Linked DNA regions of Homo sapiens: all the other regions are linked to region 1. The links come from fine-mapping of genetic effects on gene expression. A gene starts in region 1. Each other region holds a variant in brackets. All regions are shown on one strand. Distances are between the middles of the regions.

Region 1 (6,537 bases):
CAGGCATGTGCCACCACACCCGACTAATTTTTGTATTTTTAGTGGAGACGGGTTTCACCATGTTGGCCAGGCTGGTCTCGAACTCCTGACCTCAGGTCATCCACTCACCTTGGCCTCCCAAAGTGCTGGGATTACAAGTGTGAGCCACTGCACTTGGCCTCAGAATTTTTCTAAATTCATTGACTGATGAATGGATAAACAAATACAATATATCCATACAACGGAATATTACTTGACCCTAAAAAGGAACGAAGCACTGATCCATGATACTACAGAGATGAACCTTGAAAACATGACGCTGAGTGAAAGATGCCAGTCACAAAAGGCCACGTGTTGTGTGATTCCATTTATATAAAATGCCCAGAATAGGAAAACCCACAGAGACAGAAGACAGCTTAGTGCTTGCCAGGGGCTAGGGGAGGGGGAATGGGGAGTGACTGTTAATGGGGACGGGGTTTCTTTCTGGGTGGATAAAAAATGTTCTGGAATTACAAAATAGGGGTGGTTGCACAACTCTGTGAATATACTAAAAACCACCAAACTGTACACTTTAAACAAGTAAATTGTATGATGTGTGAATCATATCTCAATAAAGCTATTATTTTAAAGAGATGTTTTCAACAACAATAATCTATTTCCAATCCCACGCAGAAACTGGACTTCTAATCAGAATGACACCCATGAACCTACTGTGACCCCTTTCTTCCGGTCACACTGCAAACATTTGACAACAACTGCATGCCAGCACACACCATGTGCTGGAGACAAAAAGAAGTGGCCACTCCTGCCTCAGAAGCCCTGATATGTGGGGGACACTCACGTGGAAGGATGCTCAAGTTGCACACTTTCTTCTTATTTTCTTTTTTTGAAATGGAGTTTCACTCTTGTCACCCAGGCTGGAGTACAGTAACATGATCTCGGCTCACTGCAACCTCCACCTCCCAGGTTCAAGTGATTCTCCCACCTCAACCTCCCCAGTAGCTGGGATTACAGGTAGCTACCACCACGTCCGGCTAATTTTTATATTTTTAGTACAGACAGGGTTTCACCACGTTGGCCAGGCTGGTCTCGAACTCCTAACCTCAGGTGATCCACTGCCTCAGCCTTCCAAAGTGCTGGGATTACAGGCATGAGCCACCACACCTGGCCATTTTCTTATTTTTTTTTCATTCATTCATTCACCAGCCATCTCTTTCTCTACATCCTGAGCAAGAATGTAGCTGCTTGGAGCTGGGAGGACAGATGTGGCACACTCACCGAGCATGCCTAAAGCAGTACCTGGGTGACAGTGAGCTCCCAATCATTACCAACACAGAAATGAAGACACAAATCCTAGTCTATAAGGTCACAATCTCTCAGAGAAACAAACAACTAGTTACAAAGTAACACAGACTGAAAGTGCTACCTAAGGAATCAGAGACTGAGGTTAAGTCTACCTGAGCCAGTCACATCAGTGGCTGAATCTGGAAACCAGGGATACGAGCATCTGCAAAGCCCACCCAAACCCTCCCCAAGGCCCCAGGATGCAGGAGAGAGGTCTCACCACACTGCAAGAACAAAGTGGAGATTCAGCATCACCTTTGCAGAGTGTGCTCACCACCCTGCCCCAAGAGGAAGGTCTTGCTAGAATGCCTGACAAGAAACTGAGGCCTGAGGAACTCGGGTGCCTTGCCGTGCTCAGACACCAGCCCCAAGCCCCTGCTCCTGGCCCACAGCAACTTCCCAGGTGAGATTTGCAGGGTATCTGCTCTGCCAGACAGGAGCCTGGCAGAACCTGGCCTGCCCCTGCACACCAAATGCGCCCAGCCACCTGAGGCAGACCTGGCCCTCCACCCTGGTCCTGAGAGGGCAGGGGCTGTGGTCAGCATCCCCTGTTCCACTGGGAGGAACATCACCTGGCCCCCACCATATGGGCTACATGGAGAAGGGGCAGCTGTCTCCACTCCAAGTTCCAGGACTGAGCACAATCTGCCTTCTTGGCCCCCCTCTGGACCCCCTGGGGGACAGGATCTGACCATTCCCTCAGCTGTCCAAGAGGGAGAGATCCCTGTCCCACCTCAGCTCTGCAAGTGGGGACATCCGTTCCTCCCCCAACACCCAGGGAGTAAAGGCACAGGTAACCATGACGTAGAGACACCGGTCCCCCTCAGGTAGCAAGAATGGGAGGGCATCTGTCCCTCCCAGGTAGCAAGGATGCGGGGGCACTTGCACCCTCACCCCCAGCTACCAATGGTGCTTGCAAGCAGCACCCAGCTCATACACCTGTGTCATCCTGCCCCCCCAGGTAGCAATGATGCGGGGGCACCTGTCCCTTCCAGGTAGTAATAATGTGGGGCACCTGTCCCCCTCGGGTAACAATGATGTAGGGACACCTGTCCCCTGTCAGGTAACGACGAGGTACTAGCACCTGTTCCCTCCTAGTAGTAATGATATAGAGGCCCCTGTCTCCTCCGGGGAGCAGTGATGCAGGGCACCTGTACCCCATCAGGTATGGATTTTGTGGGGTCACCTGTCCCGCCCACGACGCCCGGGGCGTGGGGACACCTGTCCCCCTCGGGCCGTGCCAAGCCCCGCCCCCGCCGCGCGCGCCCCGCCCCCGCCGCGCCCCCCCCCACCCCGCCCCGTGCACGCGCCGGACACGCGCCCCCTCCCTCCCTCCGCCGGCCCTGAAGGGTCGGCGCGGGCAGCCCCCTTACCCGCGCGGCCCGCGTCAGGCTCAGGTCCTTCATGACCTCCTCGAAGGCCGCCGTCTCCTCCGCCTGCTTCTGATTGTGCAGCGCGATCTTCTCGCTGAATTTCCGCGGATTGTTCGAAGTCGCCATCTTCTCGCCGCCACCTCCTCCTCCTCCTCCTCCTCCTCCACCTCCTCGCCCCCCCACTCGCCCGTGCCACCGCGCAAGCGCCGGCTGGGCCCACGGGCGGCGAGCAGTGCGCAGGCGCGCCGGCGGTCGTGAGCGCGGCGCAGGCGCACAGGAGCGGCGCGCGGCGCGGGGGCGAAGGCGCATGCGCGCGCCCAGGCGCGCGCTCGGGGCCCGCGGGAAGGGCGGTGGAGCGCGAGTGGAAATTTCAACGCCGACGCAGTGATCCGCCTCCTGGCCCGCTGGACAGCGGCCTCTGGGCTGTTGGACAAGGACCGCGGATCGGCTGGGGCACTGGAGCCCCCAAGAGGGAGACGGCCTGACCCAGATCCTCCCAATTCACAAGGGTGGGGCCAGGCACCCCCCCCCGCAAGGATTGGTGGCACCCCAAGTTGAACCTGGGTTTGGACTAAGAGCTCTGAAAACAGACTAGGGCGTTGGTCACTCATGCATTCATTCATTCAAGGAATATTTACTGAGCACCTACTATGTGCCAGGCAAACTGGAGTACAGGCGTGAACAAGCAGAGGTGATCCCTGCCCTTATGGAGTGTACAGTCAGAGAGGGGGCAGACATAGCACACAAATAACCAAGAACTTTTCAGATGGAGGTAAATGTGATGCGGTAAATAAGACCAGTGGCCAGCCACAGAACATTAGGGAGGGAGGCTCCTGCAGCCACCACAGACAGGGAGGCGGAAAGTTATCTTAGCTAAGACCTGAACCCTGCAATCGGCTCTCTCAGTCCATAAACCTAGCTGTTGCCCTTAACGACTTTCTTTTTTTTTTTTTTTTTTCCCTTGAGACCGAGTTTTGCCCTTGTCGCCCAGACTGGAATGCAGTGGTGCGATCTCGGCTCACTGCAACCTCCTCCTCCCAGGTTCAAGCCATTCTCCTGCCTCAGCCTCTCCAGTAGCTAGGATTACAGGCAGGCGCCACCACGCCCAGCTAATTTTTTTATTTTCAGTAGAGACTAAAGACCATGTTGGCCAGGCTGGTCTTGAACTCCTGACAGCAGGTGATCCACCCGCCTCGCCCTCCCTAAGTGCTGGGATTACAGGCGTGAGCCACCATGTCCAGCCGACGACTACTTTTTCCCATTCCCTTGCAATGGGCATATTGCTATTCTCTGGATACCTGAGCCCAAAGAACTGGAGTTACAGAGCTTCAGCCTTCCCTCTGCATACTTCTCCAGTCCAGTCTTGTTCAAGGATCTCTATTTTGCAACAAGGTGCTAACAGAAGGGTCCAGAAATCCCATCAAGACTCAGCAGTGAAGGAAGGAGCAGAGACTCCCCCGATGGCAGAGTGGTAAGCCAGGGAAGCAGGAGGGACTCTAACCCTCCCTCCCTCAAGAGAGGGACCCCCAACCACCAATATTGAAAGTTTATATTCAGGAGGCTGCAGGGATTTCAGAGTATGGGCTGGGTGGAAGCTAGGAAGGTCAGCTGGGGGAATTGATGATGGCTCTAATGGCACAACAAGCACACATTTTATTGGACTGAGGATGGCTGGAGGGGATGCTGACATCTTCCAAACATGCTTTGATTCATGCTTTACAACAGGTAATAAAATGCTCATGTTAAATATATATATATATATATCGATTTTCATTTAGAATGCCTTGGATATTGCCACTGCCCTACTTTATCTTTGTTTTGAGACAGAGTCTCACTCTGTCGCCCAGGCTAGAGTGCAGTGGCGCAACCTTGGCTCACTGCAATCTCTGCCTCTCAGGTTCAAGCGATTCTCCTACCTCAGCCTCCCAAGTAGCTGGGATTACAGGCATGCACCATGATGCTCAGCTAATTTTTATGGGATTTTTTTTTTTTTTTTTTTTTTGAGACGGAGTCTCTGTTTCCCAGGCTGGAGTGCAGTGGCACAGACTCAGCTCACTGCAACCTCTGCCTCTGGGGTTTAAGTGATTCTCCTGCCTCAGCCTCCCAAGTAGCTGGAATTACAGGAACCCACCACCACACCCGGCTACTTTTTGTATTTTTAGTAGAGACAGGGTTTCACCGTGTTGGCCAGGCTGGTCTTGAACTTCTGACCTCAGGTGATCCGCCCGCCTCAGCCTCCCAAAGTGCTGGGATTACAGACATGAGCCACCGCACCCGGCCATCTTCCTTCTTGATATGATTTTGCGCACTTTGGTAAGCTCCTATACTTTTTGCCTAACAAGCATATTCCTTCTCTCAACCCCACCCACTCCCTCAACTTTTTAGTGTCAACAACCCTTATTTGGGGAACACTGGTTCTGACTTTCAGTCTGTGAGATGTGAATGGCTGGTCTCACCACTCTCCCACCACACAAACACCCCTCCCTAAGGTGGAAGTCTTGGCCAATCAGCATAGCCCATTGTGCTGGCCATCAAGATTGGTTCAGGCCAGGCTGGGTGTTGTGGCTCATGCCTGTAATCCCAGAACTTGGGAGGCCGAGGCAGGAGGATCATTTGAGCCCAGGAGCTTGAGACCAGCCTGGGCAACATAGCGAGATTTAATCTCCACTAAAAATAAAAAAATTACCTGCGCGTGGTGATGCCTGCTTATAATCCCAGCTACTCAGGAGGCTGAGACAGGAGGATTGCTTGAGCCTGGGAGATGGAGGCTGCAGTGAGCTATGATAATGCACTGCACTCCAGCCTGGGTGACAGAGCAAGACCCTGTCTCAAACAAACAAACAAACAAACAAACAAAAAACAGGCTGGGCGCTGGGTCATGACTGTAATCCCTACACTTTTGGAGGCAGAGGCGGGCAGAACACCTGAGGTCAGGAGTTTGAGACCAGACTGGCCAACATGGTGAAACCCCATCTCGACTAAAAATACAAAAAAAATTAGCCAGACGCGGTGGCACACGCCTGTAATTCCAGCTGCTGGGGAGGCTGAGGCAGGAAAATCACTTGAACCCAGGAGGTGGAGGTTGCAGTGAGCCAAGATAGCGCCACTTCACTCTAGCCTGGGCAACAGAGGGAGACTTTGTCTCAAAAAAAAACAAAAGATTAGTTCAGCTGGGCCAAAAGAGTGGACCCACACAGAGGAAAACAGAACCAGGCCTGGCACGGTGGCTCACAACTGTAATCCCAGCACTTTGGGAGGCCAAGGTGGGTGGATCACTTGAGGTCAGGAGCTTGAGACCAGCCTGACCAACATAGGGAAACTCCATCTCTACTAAAAATACAAAATTAGCTGGGCATGGTGGCACATGCCTCTAATCCCAGCTACTTGGGAGGCTGAGGCAGGAGAACAGCTTGAATCCAGGAGGCAGAGGTTGCAGTGAGCCGAGATCACATTACTGTACTCCAGCCTGAGCTTCTGGATCCAGCCATTCCTGAAGCTAGACTCACCTGCCTTTTAAGTTATGTAGGCCAAAAATTTATTCCCTTTTGTGCTTGTCTATTTGTTTTCTTGTTTGTTTGTTTGTTTGTTTTTTCAGACAGGGTCTCACTTTGTTGCCCAGGCTGGAGTGCAGTGGCATGATCATGCTCACTGAAGCCCCAACCCTTAGGCTCAGGTGATCCCCCCACCTCAGCCTTCCAGGTAGCTGGGACTACAGGTGTGCATCATCATGCCTGGCTAATGTTTTGTGGTTTTTGTAGAGACAGGATTCATCCTGTTGCTCAGGCTGGTCTCAAACTCCTGGGCTCAAGTGATCCGCCCCCCTCAGCCTCCCAAAGTGCTG
Region 2 (6,537 bases), 35 kb before region 1:
CCAGTGATGATGGACTTGGCAGAATGTCTGCTGTGGGTTGCCTGTGTCCCCTGGAAACACATAGCCATGTCCTAACCCCGCCATCTATGAATGTGACTGTATTTGGAGAGAGTCTTTGCAGGTCGAGGCCAGGTGCATGGCTCACGCCTATAATCCCAACACTTTGGGAGACTGAGGCAGGTGGATTGCTTGAGCTCAGGAGTTTGAAACCAGCCTGGGCAACATAGCAAGACCCCGTCTCTACTAAAAATACAAAAATTAGCTGGGCATGGTGGATCACGCCTGTAGTTCCAGCTACTCAGGAGGCTGAGGTGGGAGGATCGCTTGACCCCAGGAGGCAGAGGTTGAAGTGAGCTATGATTGTGCCTCTGCACTCCAGCCTGGGCGACAGAGCAAGACCTTGTTTAAAAAAAAAAAAAAAAAAAAAGGCCGGGTGTGGTGGCTCATGCCTGTAATCCCAGCACTTTGGGAGGCCAAGGTGGGTGGATCACAAGGTCAGGAAATCGAGACCATCCTGGCTAACACTGTGAAACCCCGTCTCTACCGAAAATACAAAAAATTAGCCGGGCATGGTGGCGGGCGCCTGAAGTCCCAGCTACTCGGGAGGCTGAGGCAGGAGAATGGCGTGAACCCAGGAGGCGGAGCTTGCAGTGAGCCGAGATCGCGCCACTGCCCTCCAGCCTGGACGACAGAGCGAGACTCCGTCTCAAAAAAAAAAAAAAAACAGAGGTTGAACTGGAGTAGGGTATGCCTTAAATCCAATGACTAGCATCCTCAGAAGATGAGAAGAGACACAGTGAGAGGAGGTGTCCACATGACAATGAAGGCAGAGACTGGAGTGATGCAAAGAGCGCCTAGAGCCACTGAAGCTGGAGGAGGCAGGAAGGATCCTCCCCTAGAGCCTCCTGCAGGCACCAGCCCTGCCGACACCTGCACTGAATACATTTCTATTGTTTTAAGATACCCAGTTTGTGGTCATTTGTTACAGCCACCAACAGGAAAGGAAGGACTAAGGCCCCACGCATGTGTGCAGGCAGTGTACTCGGGCAGAGAGGGCCCCATGCATGCGTGCACATAGTGTACATGAGCAGAGAGAAAGAGAGGGAATTCCAAAACTCAGCCGGGTGCAGCAGCTCACACCTGCAATCCCAGTACTTTGGGAGGTCAAGGTGGGTGGATCTCTTGAGGTCAGGAGTTCGAGATCAGCCTGGCCAACATGATGAAACCCCGTCTCTACTGAAAGTACCAAAGTTAGGCCGGGCGTGGTGGCTCACGCCTGTTATCCCAGCACTCTGGGAGGCCGAGGCGGGCGGATCACAAGGTCAGGAGATCAAGACCATCCTGACTAACATGGTGAAACCCCATCTCTGCTAAAAAAAAAAAAAAAAAAAAAACACTAAAAATTAGCCGGGCGTGGTGGCAGGCGACTGTAGTCCCAGTTACTCGGGAGGCTGAGGCAGGAGAATGGCGTGAACCCGGAAGGCGGAGCTTGCAGTGAGCCGAGATCATGCCACTGCACTCCAGCCTGGGTGACAGAGCGAGACTGTCTCAAAAAAAAGAAAAAGAAAGAAAGAAAGAAAATACAAAAGTTAGTCAGGTGTGGTGGCTCACATCTGTAATCCCAGCTACTCGGGAGGCTGAGGCAGGAGAATTGCTTGAACCAGGGAAGCAGAGGTTGCAGTGACACGAGATCGCGTCACTACACTTCAGCCTGGGAGACAGTGAGACTCCATCTCAAAAACAAAACAAAACAAAACAAAAAAACTCACTTTTTCTCCACCTTGACTCAAAACACATCTCTTGGTGCACACTTGTGTTCTGGAATGTGCAAGCACACGTCTATTTGTAGCTGGGGGAACAGATCCTTTGCAGTTTAATTTTAAATCTTATCACCAATTGAATAATGCAAACCACTGGCGGGGATGCTGGCCACTTGAAACAGGGTCTCCCTCCCCAAGAGCGGCCCCTGGGTCCCAGGCAAGAAGCCCGACGCCGACGCTGCCCACATGGACGGGCCTGGGGCCTTCCCGGAGCGGGCCTGTGCCCATCTTGAAAATGTCAGGCCTGGTTTCTGACAGGTGCCGGACCTAACCTCAGGGAAGTCAGATCCCAGACACGGCAGAGGAGGCCCAGCCCTGCTCGCCCCGGGTCAGCCGCCCGCAGGCCTCTGGGATTCTGAGCACCGCGGGGCGATCTGCCAGGAGCCACCTCCGGTCGAGGCGGAACAAATGATTTTTGAAAACGGCATCTGCCTGCTGACACAGGGCTTGCTTGGGGTCTGGGCTGAACCCGCCTCTCTGAGCAGCTCTTTCGACGCTGCCTCCCCCCAGGACGGCTAAGACAAAGGCGAGATGCCCTCATTACCATGGGCCCAAAATAGCTTTTATGCTCCATTTTTTAGACATAGCTTGACTATGGAGTTACATAACACCAAAAGTCATTTTGTGATTTGGAAGGCCAGATCCTGGGCCTGCCGGGGCCCACCTGGTACCCCTTGAGTGCCCTCACAGCCCTGTCCCAAAGGCTTCACCCAGGCCCCTGAACTCCTAGCCAGGCCCCAGGTGGCACCTGCTGCAGGCCCTGGGGACCCGGTGGGGTTAGCCCTTGCCTGTCTCACCATCTTCAGGCCGCATTCTGGGCTAGCGGGGCCAGGCACCACATTTGGAGTGCCCAGCAGACACACACGATGCAGGGAAGGACCAAGCCCAGAGGAGGGGTCACTAGTTGGAGGCTGCGCCCGCCAGGGTAGAAGAAGCAGGGACAGAGGCTGGAGGTGTCCCTTTCCTCTGCCTGCCTCATCACTCCCATGATCACTTCCCAGCAGCTCGACTTCCAGGGCCCATCGTCAGCCCCCTCCCTGGTACTAGCCCGTGTCATCTCGCACCCAGACACCCACGTGACCTCCTCCCAGGCCTCCCTGCTCCCTCTGCAAGTGGCTGCCGAGACTCCTTCATTTTCT[T/C]CTCTTTATTCATTCAGTTCAAATCGTGTTATGCTCCCGTTTTAAACACACCAGTAGGCTTCCATCCTATTTAAAATAAACCCCCAATCTGTATGGCGGTTCCTCAACAAGTGACATGCTGAGCTGCTGTTATGACCAAGCAATCCCACTCCTGGACGGATGCCCCCACGAAATGAAGACAATCATACATGAGTGTGTGTACCAGCACAATGGACAACAGCCAAAAGGTGGGAAAACCCACGTGTGTGCCAAGGGATGAATGAATAAGACTGGTCTGTCCATACAGTGGAATAAGATTCAGCCATGAAAAGGAATGAAGGCTGGGCACGGTGGCTCACACTTGTAATCCCAGCACTTTGGGAGGCGGAGGAGGGAAGATCCCTTGAGGCCAGGAGTTTGAGAGCAGCCTGGCCAATATGGTGAAACCCTGTTTCTAAAAAAAAAAAAAAAAAATTAGCCAGGCATGCATGGTGGTGCACACCAATAATTTCAGCTATTCGAGAGGCAGAGGTGGGAGGTTGGACAGAGCCCAAGAGGTGGAGGCTGCAGTGAGCTGTGATCGTACCACTGCACTCCAGCCTGGGTGACAGAGTGAGACCCTGTCTCAAGAGGAACAACAAAAAAGGAAGGAAGCACTGACCCATGCTACAATGTGGATGAAACTGAACATGTGATGCTGAGTGAGAGAAGCCAGGTACAGAAGGCCACAGGGTGTGAGATTCCATCGATCTGAAATGCTCAGAACAGGCAAATCCACAGAGACAGGAAGCAGATTAGTAACTGCCAGGGGCTGGGGAGGAGAGGAGGGGAGGGACTGCTAATGGGGACAAGGTCTCCTTTGGATGATGAGAATGTTCTGGAACTAGATAGCTGTGATGCCTGCACAATACTGTGAATGCGCCAAACGCCATGGAACTGTTCACTTTCAGATGGTGAATCTTATGTTATGTGGTGTTCACCTCAACAATAGATAAGTAAGATTCAAAGCCAGCCCCGTGACGGGGCTGCCCAGGCCCTGCTGTCTTTTTCTTCTCCCTCACTCCTGTCCCTACTGCCAGGTCCTCTTCCTGCTGTCAAAGGCCTTCTCCCCAGGGGCCCTCTGCTTGTACTGTTCCTGCCTCACACACGCACCCCCGTGTCTGGAAACCACTGCTGCCTTGACCAGGGCTGGCATGAGAAACCGTCCTGCGAGAGGCCCTCCCATGTCCCTGCGGCCCTGCTCTGCTCCCACCCGGCATTTGGCCCACCCCGGAACCCTGCACCCTCCTCTCTGAGCTGCATCCTCCAGCCCCGCCCATACTCACTGTAGGCTGAGACTGGAAGGCAGTGTTTGAGCCCAGGGGTCCTGCATCCAAGCTGGTGGCTGCACGCATCTGTGTCTGCCTCTCTGGGCCCCAGTGCCCCACACACAGGCAGAAACACAGGCTCCTGTGAGTGAGCACTACGACCCTTCTGAGGGGACAGTGTTTGGGGTGATCAGCTCCAGAGGGGAGGGACTGGCCCCTGAACAGTATGGGGTGGCAGCCCTGCTCCAGCTCAGCATCTATGGCAAGGGCTCCAGGGATGCCCTTGACCCCAAGGGCCACTACCCAGTGGTCATTACTGCACCAAGGACAGAGGCCACAAGGAGACAGACCCAGTCCTGGCTCCCACACAGCCTGAAGACCCTGGGAGAGGGTGCTAGGGGAAAGACTTCCCCTGGGCCCTCCACTCCCAAGCCCAGCAGCCCCCTCTCAGCCCCACCCTGGGAGTGCCACCATCACCCCTCACTCAAAGCTCCCCAAACTCATGTCTCCAGCCCAGCGCCAGTCACCCACCAGGGAGGCTGTACAGACATCACACGTGTTCACACACATGCACCCAGCCACATGTGTGCACACTCACAGCAATGCACATAGTCACATAAACACATTCATGCACGTGCATGCACATATGCTCACACGCACACACACATGCTCACACTCCTGTCCTGCCTGCACTCCTGTCCTGCCTGCACGCCAGCTCCCACTCACTTGCACACACACGAGCACATTCACAACTGCCCAAACCTGTCCCTTCCTTAGGAACCCCCCATGCCCCACCTGGCTCCCCCATGTCCCAGCACCTCTTCTGCCCTCTCGCCTCTTCTGTCCTCATTCTGGCCCAAGCCACATCTTCTCTTGCCTGGACAAATACAGAAGCCTCCTACTGGGGTCTCAAGTTAACCCTGCAGCGCCCAAACCACTCAGCTGGAGTCTCTCCAAACTTCCCACCTGAGCAGGTCACTCCAGCTCTACAGGAAAGACGACACAGCATGCTCTACTCGCTAGCCCCTATACTAGCCATGCCCTCTCCACACACTAATGCCCGCTGGGCTCTCCACACGCTAATGCTTGCTGGGCTGCACCTGGGCTAAGAGTCATGCAGGAGCCGGCCAGGCACAGTTGCTCACACCTGTAATCCCAGCACTTTGGGAGGCCAAGGTGGGTGGATCATGAGGTCAGGAGTTTGAGACCAGCCTGGCCAACATGGTGAAACCCCATCTCTACTAAAAATACAAAAATTAGCTGGGTGTGGTGGCAGACGCCTGTAATCCCAGCTACTTGGGAGGCTGAGGCAGAGAACTGCTTGAACCTGGGAGGTGGAGACTGCAGTGAGCTGAGATCGTGCCACTGCACTCCAGCCTGGGTGACAGAGCAAGATTGCGTCTCAAAAAAAAAAAAAGAGTCATTCGGGAGCCACATTCTGGCCCCACCTCCAATAATGACCCTCAGGCTGATGTCCCCACCCTAAGACCACAGCCCCCAACAAGGGTGGGCTGTGGCTGCTGCACTCACTACAGGGTCCCCAGGGCGGGGCACTGGGCAGGGCAGCGGGGGGCACATGCCACCAGTGACTCTGGGAATCCCGGAGGCATCCCTCCCCACCTGCAGCCCAGCAAGGGGACCATTCTCAGCATCCCCGCTCTTTGGCGACACCCCCCCCGCCAACCGCTGCCAGCACATAAGCGTACACCTGTCCCAGGCTTCGGGTGCAGGAATGCCGGGGACAGCTCCAAACAGCAGCCAACCACAAGCAGTGGCAGGAAGGAGCGTGGGCTGCAGCAAAGTCAACAGGGAAACAGGATGCAGCCCTGAGCAGGGTGGGTTCAGCCAGGTGGGCCCCTTGGCTGGGACAAACCTCCAAACAGGCCAACTCAGAGAGACCCCCTGCCTGGGAGCCCACCTGCACGTGCAAACAGCACTTGGTTCCAAGATGCAATCACACAAATGACGAAAGCAAAAGCATCATGATGTCCACACACTGAGAAGCAGGGGAAGAGGGGAGGACAGGCCCGTCCCCGGGGCCACAGGTGGCTGAGGGGAGGCTGCAGCTCCCTGCTGGGCATGGGGCCTGCACCACAGTACTTACTTTCTGTTGTGGGACGTACTCCCAGAAAAGTATGTCCAAGTCCTGACCCCTGGCACCTGGAATGGGAACTTACTTGGAAATAAGGTATTTGCAGCTGTAATTGAGTTAAAGTCATGTTGGAGTAGGGTGGGCCCTAATCCAATGGCAAGGGCCTTTAGAAGAGAAGAGAAGGGGTATTAGCCAGGCGT
Region 3 (6,537 bases), 43 kb before region 1:
AGCCACCGCGCCCGGCCAGCCTGAACCAACTTCTAAAGAAAACAAGGCGGGCAGGTGCGGTGGCTCACGCCTGTAATCCCAGCACTTTGGGAGGCCAAGGGAGGTGGATCACCTGAGGTCAGGAGTTCGAGACCAGCCTGGCCAACATGGTGGAACCCTGTCTCTACTAAAAATACAAGAATTAGCCAGACATGATGGCAGGCACCTGTAATGCCAGGTACTTGGGAGGCTGAGGCAGGAGAATCACTTGAACTCGGGAGGTAGAGGATGCAGTGAGCTGAGATCGTGCTACTGCACTCCAGCCTGGGCGACAGAGCAAGACTCTGTCTCAAAAAAAAAAAAAAAGGCCAGGTGAGGTGGCTCACACCTGTAATCCCAGAACTTTGGGAGGTCTTTGGGAAGTCAAGGTGGGCAGATCACTTGAGGTCAGGAGTTCTAGACCAGCCTGGCCAACATGATGAAACTCCGTCTCTACTAAAAATACAAAATTAGTTAGGTGTCGTGGCACATGCCTGTAATCCCAGCTACTCAGGAGGCTGAGGCGGGAGAGTCACTTGAAACCAGGAGGCAGAGGTTACTGAGCCAAGATCGCACTATTGCACCCCAGCCTGGGCCACAAGAGGGAAACTCCATCTCCAAAAAAATTAAAAAAAGAGGATAAGGCACGGAGAACTTCCCCGGAGCTGCTCTGTGATGTTACGACTGCTTTTTCAAGTGACTTGGTGTCAGGAATGAATGAAATCGGGATCTCTGATACTTTTAAGCCCAAGCCCATTGTCCTGGTTTTGCTTACCCACAATGCATCCTGGGCAGCGATTGAAGCTGAAGAGGCCTGGAAATAAAGTTTCAAATGAGGCTAATGTACAATTCTTCACCTAGTAACATAAGGGGGTGGAGAGGCAGAGATGGGCCGGGACGGGACATTCTCCCAACCTCTGTGCAACCTCACCGGGAGGGCCAGGACACCAGGGGAGGGGTCACTTGTCCTGACCCCAGAGTCCCCCTTGGTCCATCCCCAACTCTTGGGCATGATATCAGTCTCCTGAGGCTGCTGTAACAAATAAGCACAAACCAGGTGGCTGACACAACAGAGATGTTTCCCGCACAGCTCTGGAGGCTCTGAAAGTAAGGTGGAGGCCGGGCACGGTGGCTCACGCCTGTAATCCCAGCGCTTTGGGAGGCTGAGGTGGGTGGATCACCTGAGGTCATGAGTTCGAGATCAGCCTGGCCAACATGGTGAAACCCCATCTCTACTAAAAATACAAAAGAAAATTATCTGGGCATGGTGATGGGCGCCTGTAATCCCAGCTACTCAGGAGGCTGAGGCAGGAGAACTTCCTGAACCTGGGAGGCAGAGGTGGCAGTGAGCCAAGATTGTGCCACTGCACTTCAGCCTGGGCAACATAGTGAGACTCCATCTCAAAAAATAAAAATAAAATAAAAGCAAGGTGGCCTCTCTCCCAGCTGTTGCGGCTGCTGACCATCCTTAGCACTTCTTGGCTTGTAGACGGATCGCCTCATTCTTTGCTTCTGTCTGCTTGTGTCCTTTTCCCTTTCTTCTTCTTTTTTTTTTTTTTTTTGAGACAGAGTCTTGCTCTGTCACCCAGGCTGGAGTGCAGTGGCGTGATCTCGGCTCACTGCAACCTCCACCTCCCAGGTTTAAGCGATTCTCCTGCCTCAGCCTCCCACATAGCTGGGACTACTGATGCGTGCCACCATACCCAACTAATTTTTTGTATTTTTAGTAGAGATAGGGTTTCACTGTGTTAGCCAGGATGGTCTCGATCTCCTGACCTCGTGACCTGCCTGCCTCGGCCTACCAAAGTGCTCGGATTACACGCGTGAACCACCGTGCCTGACCTTGTCCTTTTCCCTTTCTGTCCCTGTGCCTCTGTTTTGCCTTGTTTGTTTGAGACAGGGTCTCACTCTGTCACCCAGGCTGGAGTGCAGCAGCACAATCATAGCTCATGGCAGCCTTGAACTCCTGGGCTCAAGTGATTCTCCTGCTGCAGCCTCCTGAGTAGTTGGGACTACAGGAGCACACCACCAAGCCTGGCCAATTATTTTCTAATTTTTTGCTGAGATGGGGTCTGGCTATGTTGCCCAGGCTAGACCTGGACTCCTGGCCTCAAGTGATCCTCCCACCTCGGCCTTCCAAAGTGCTAGGATTAAAGGCCTAGGCCACCGTGCCTGGCCTGTTTTGCCTTCTTTTTTTTTTTTTTTTTTTTTTTCCCCAAGACGGAGTCTTTCTCTGTTACCTAGGCTGGAATGCAGTGGCACGATCTCGGCTCGCTGCAACCTCCACCTCCTGGGTTCAAGCAATTCTCCTGCCTCGGCCTCCCAAGTAGCTGGGATTACAGGCACCCACCATCACACCTGGCTAATTTTTGTATTTTTAGTAAAGACAGGGTTTCACCATGTTGGCCAGGCTGGTCTCAAACTCCTGACCTCATGATCCGCCCGCCTTGGTCTCCCAAAGTACAGGGATTACAGGAGTGGGCCACCACGCCCAGCCTTTGTCTTCTTTATAAGGACACCAGTCACTGGATTTAGGGCCCACCCTATTCCATAATGACCTCATCATGACTTAAGTCCATCTGTAAAATCCCTATTTCCAAATGAGCTCACTCACAGGTTCTGGATGAACATGAACTTTTGAGGGGACACTGTTCAACCCCATACACTCACCAAACCCCAGGTCACCTCCAGCCCACTCTAAGAACCATCCCAAGGAAGCAGATGCCCATGGCTCTCACCTCATCCCTATAGCTGGCCGCCTGAGGGCTCCTCTGGGGCAGCCAGCTCCCCTCCCGGGCCTGGGCCTCCTCTGCTGTCCCCCGGGGACCGAGGGGTGAAGCGAGGCCGGCACACGTCAGCGGTGCTGGAAATGCATGGGGCTCTGAGAGGCAGGTGGCTGGGAGCGCCGGCTGAGCCATTTGGCAGCGTCCGCCGAGTGCCTGAGCAACGTTCCTGCCCTCTAACCTGGTAATCCCACTTCTGGGAAGCTCTCCTGAGGGAAATCATCCAGAACGCAGATTTATGCGCAAAGATGTTCCTGCATCACCAGCTGGGAGAACAAGGAGCTGGAGCCTGTTCCAGGGCCCGGCCTCAACTCCAGAGAAGATCGAGGGCGCGGTACATGAGTCGGGAGGAAGCACTTTCTAGAACATCTTTACTGCAGATCTGCATGGGCACAGGCAGACCTGGGCTGAGGCTGGGTGGCCCCCGT[C/T]CCTGGGATGTCCCCAGGGGATCTGGGCAGCAGGAGCAGCCAGGGTGACCGGCAGCCCCGGAAGCGCGACACACGGGGAGAGAGGAATTCTCCAGAACACGGGAGGGCCGAGGCGGACCCTGTAAGCCAGGAGAGGGAGACCATGCAGGCTGTGTTGGGGGAAGGTGGCGGAATACCTGAGCCACGCGAGAAAGACAGAATTAGACTCAGAAGAGGAGAAAGAAGCCCCTAACACAGGCCAGAGAGGTGGGAGGCTCAGGAAGAGGGAGGAGGGGCTGGCGCCAAGGACGGCCAGGCCTCCCCAGGGATGCAAGTGGCCAAGCCAGGTCCAGCCGGCAGCCTGGTGCCCCTGTGAGCACGCATAGCCACAGGTCTGGCACTGATGCCTTCTCCAACGCTGAACCCAGGGGCCCGTGTGTGGGGACGGCTGGCCAGGCTGCCCCAACCTCCGCTCCAGGAGGGTGGCCGAGGCCTCCTAGGTTCTGGGTCCTCCTCCTTCTCCTCTCCAGGATAGAGACAGGCAGGAACCCAGAAACCAAGCGATGACAGAGAGCAAGGATTCTGGGAGCTGGACAGGGGCTCCCTGGAGGCCACAGGGAGGGACAACTGAGATGGATCAAGCCACCTAAGGGGTGCTGGCCTCAGGCCCGAGCTGGGGGAGAGAAGGGGCTGGAGGTGCAGAGGCCTGCAGAGGTCAGAGGTCACAGGAGGCCTCCCCCTCAGCATTGCCATGAGGGGCCAGGCAGGGGCACTAGGGAGCAAGGGGGTCTCGCACAGGGACGCTGGCCTAGAGTGCTATGAAGAAAAGATACTGAGCTCCCCAAGGTGAAGCATACAGGGGTCTCCTGGGTGTGTACTCAGGACAAAGGGGACACCCCCCAGCTCCAGGCGGGTCCAAGGGACGGACCAACAGGAGCGCTCCTGGGTGGGGCCAGTGTGCTGAGGGAAGCTGGGCAGGGGGTGACAGGGTCAGAGGCCTTAGGGAACTGCCAAGGCAACCAAGAGGGTGAGAGGCAGATCCCAAGCGCTCGATGCAGGTCAGCTCAGCTACTGGGGAGTGAATTCACGGTGTCCCCAAAAGGTTATATCCACCTCCTCATCCCTGGAACCTGAGAGTATGACCTTATTTGAAAAAACAGTCTTTTCAGACATAATTAAGGGAAGGATCTTGGGATGAAGAAATCATCCTAGATTAGCCGGGAGGACCCTACATCGGGTGACTGCTGCCCTTTTAAGAGACAGAAGATGAGACACAGATGCAGAGGGGGACGGCCGGGATTGGGGCGATGCAGCCACAAGCCAAGGAACGGCTGGAGCCACTGAAAGCTGGAAGAGGCAGGAAAGATTCCTCCCCAGAGCCTCCAGAGGAAGCTCGGCCCTGCCGACACCTGGATTTTAGACTTCCAGGCTCTAGAACCATGAGAGAAGACATTCTTGTTCTAAGCAGCCCAGGTGTAGTACTTTAATATATTACAGCAGCCACCAGAAACTCACACATGGCCCCCCAGTCCCAATAGGTGCTGCTGTCTCCCCTTCCAGGGCAGGGCTGAGAACCTGAACACCCCAGGTCCCTTGATCCTAGAGCCAGCTCATCATGGAATCCCCCCACACACAGCAACAACCCATCACCTCTAAGATGAAAATGAAATTGACTCCTAGCGAGTGCAGAGAACAACACCCCACGCACCCACACACCCCACCCCACAGACTGATCAGCTGTCACTGCTCCCTCCTGGGGCCTCACCATCTGCAGAGGGGACGAGGGAGCCGTGTCGATGCTGCCGAGGAGCCTGTCCGCCCCGCCGGTTCCCGCCTGGAGCCCAGGGAACAAGCCTGGGCTCACGGTGTCGCTCTCTCAACTCCCATGACCACATATGTGGGATGCTCTGTTCTGTGCAGGGAGGTTTCACATGTCTCATAAGTGCAGCATACAGTGTCTGCTTCTGCCTGGGGTGACGGTGGAATGCCATCGCCATTAACACGCCAACGTGCATCCTCCCTCCCGGAGGCTCCAAGCGCACGGGGACAACTGAGATGACGGTGGCGTGTGCAATGTGCCCCACACTGACGAGGCTGCTGTGGAGCTGGCACAGGCAGCAAGGTGGGTCGACGCAGGGGCTGTCTCACTCCATCTGAGACCAGTGTCCCTGCAGGGCAACTGCCCTGTTGCCCACAGGCCATCTGACCACATCGAAACACATAGCTAAGGCTCCCTCTCCAGGCCCCAGACAAATGGCAATCAGGCAGAAATACCAACCAGATGCCCCCTTGCCCTCCAGAGTTCTCTCTCAGGTCTTTTATCTAATGTGACGCAAGCCCACCGTTAGGAAACCCATACTGGACCTGGGGTCCCCGGTGAACTGGCCTTGGCCACAAACTTCCAACACTTTAAGCCACAGCATGGAGACACCACGTGGCTCCGCACCTCTGGGCTGTGGTGACACAGACACCCACCCTTCATCCCTTCCTCACGCCCTGCTACTTCCTGAGAGCTGTCTTCAGAAGCAAGGATGCTAAGGCAGATGGGAAGAGACAGGTCTCCGTCTCTCCCCATGGGGAGATTGGAGATAAGATGTCAACAAACTTACAAACGGTAGGTGGACGGTTAACAACATCCGAAAGACAAAACCCACCAAATAAATGGATAAACAAAATGTGGTCCATCCGTACAACAAAATATGATTGTAGGCCGGGCAATTACAGTGGCTCAGGCCTGTAATCCCAGCACTTTGGGAGGCTGTGGCAGGTGGATCACTTGAGGTCAGGAGTTTGAGACCAGCCTGGCCAACATGGTGAAACCCCATCTCTACCAAAAATACAAAAATTAGCCAGGAGTGGTGCCCCATGCCTGTAATCCCAGGTACTTGGGAGGCTGAGGCAGAAGAATCGCTTGAACCCAGGAGGCAGAGGATGTAGTGAGCCGAGATTGCACCTCTGCACTCCAGCCTGGGCAAGAGAGCAAGACCCTGTCTCAAAAAAAAAAGACTGTAGCACTGATCCATGCTACAGCATGGACAAACCTCGAAAACACGATGCTGAGTGACAGAAGCCAGACATAAAAGGCCACATGGTGTCAGATTTTCATTGATATGAAATATCCAGAATAGGCAAAGCCACAGAGACAGATTAGTGGTTGCCTGGGGCTGGGAGTGGAAATGGGGAGTGACTACCTGCGGGGTGAGGTCTCCCTCTGGGGAGATGGAAATGTTCTGGGCGCAGACAGAAGGGAAGGTTGCACAGCACTGGGAGTGTGCTACACGCCACCACGGCATGCTCTAAAATGCTTAATTTCATGTTATGTGAACATC

What was found. PIP is the estimated chance that this variant, and not a neighbour inherited with it, causes the effect.
Region 2: its variant is the best candidate, but not a certain one, in a credible set for the expression of CRTC1 in tibial nerve (GTEx, PIP 0.81).
Region 3: its variant is the best candidate, but not a certain one, in a credible set for the expression of CRTC1 in cerebellum (GTEx, PIP 0.85).

Annotation. Positions count from the first base shown.
Region 1 is chr19:18,679,988-18,686,524 of GRCh38, reverse strand. It overlaps CRTC1 (CREB regulated transcription coactivator 1), which reads right to left and starts at 2,845. Exons shown (of 14, transcript NM_015321.3): 1 at 2,697-2,845. The coding sequence starts at 2,822. RefSeq lists a silencer at 2,856-2,945 and an enhancer at 3,156-3,455.
Region 2 is chr19:18,715,383-18,721,919 of GRCh38, reverse strand. All of the region lies in intron 1 of CRTC1 (CREB regulated transcription coactivator 1), which reads right to left. Among named protein-coding and RNA genes, the nearest start is that of CRTC1, 35 kb to the right of the region's middle. The variant T/C (reference allele first, on the strand shown) is at 2,960.
Region 3 is chr19:18,722,624-18,729,160 of GRCh38, reverse strand. The region is part of intron 1 of CRTC1 (CREB regulated transcription coactivator 1); the gene reads right to left. Among named protein-coding and RNA genes, the nearest start is that of CRTC1, 42 kb to the right of the region's middle. The variant C/T (reference allele first, on the strand shown) is at 3,230.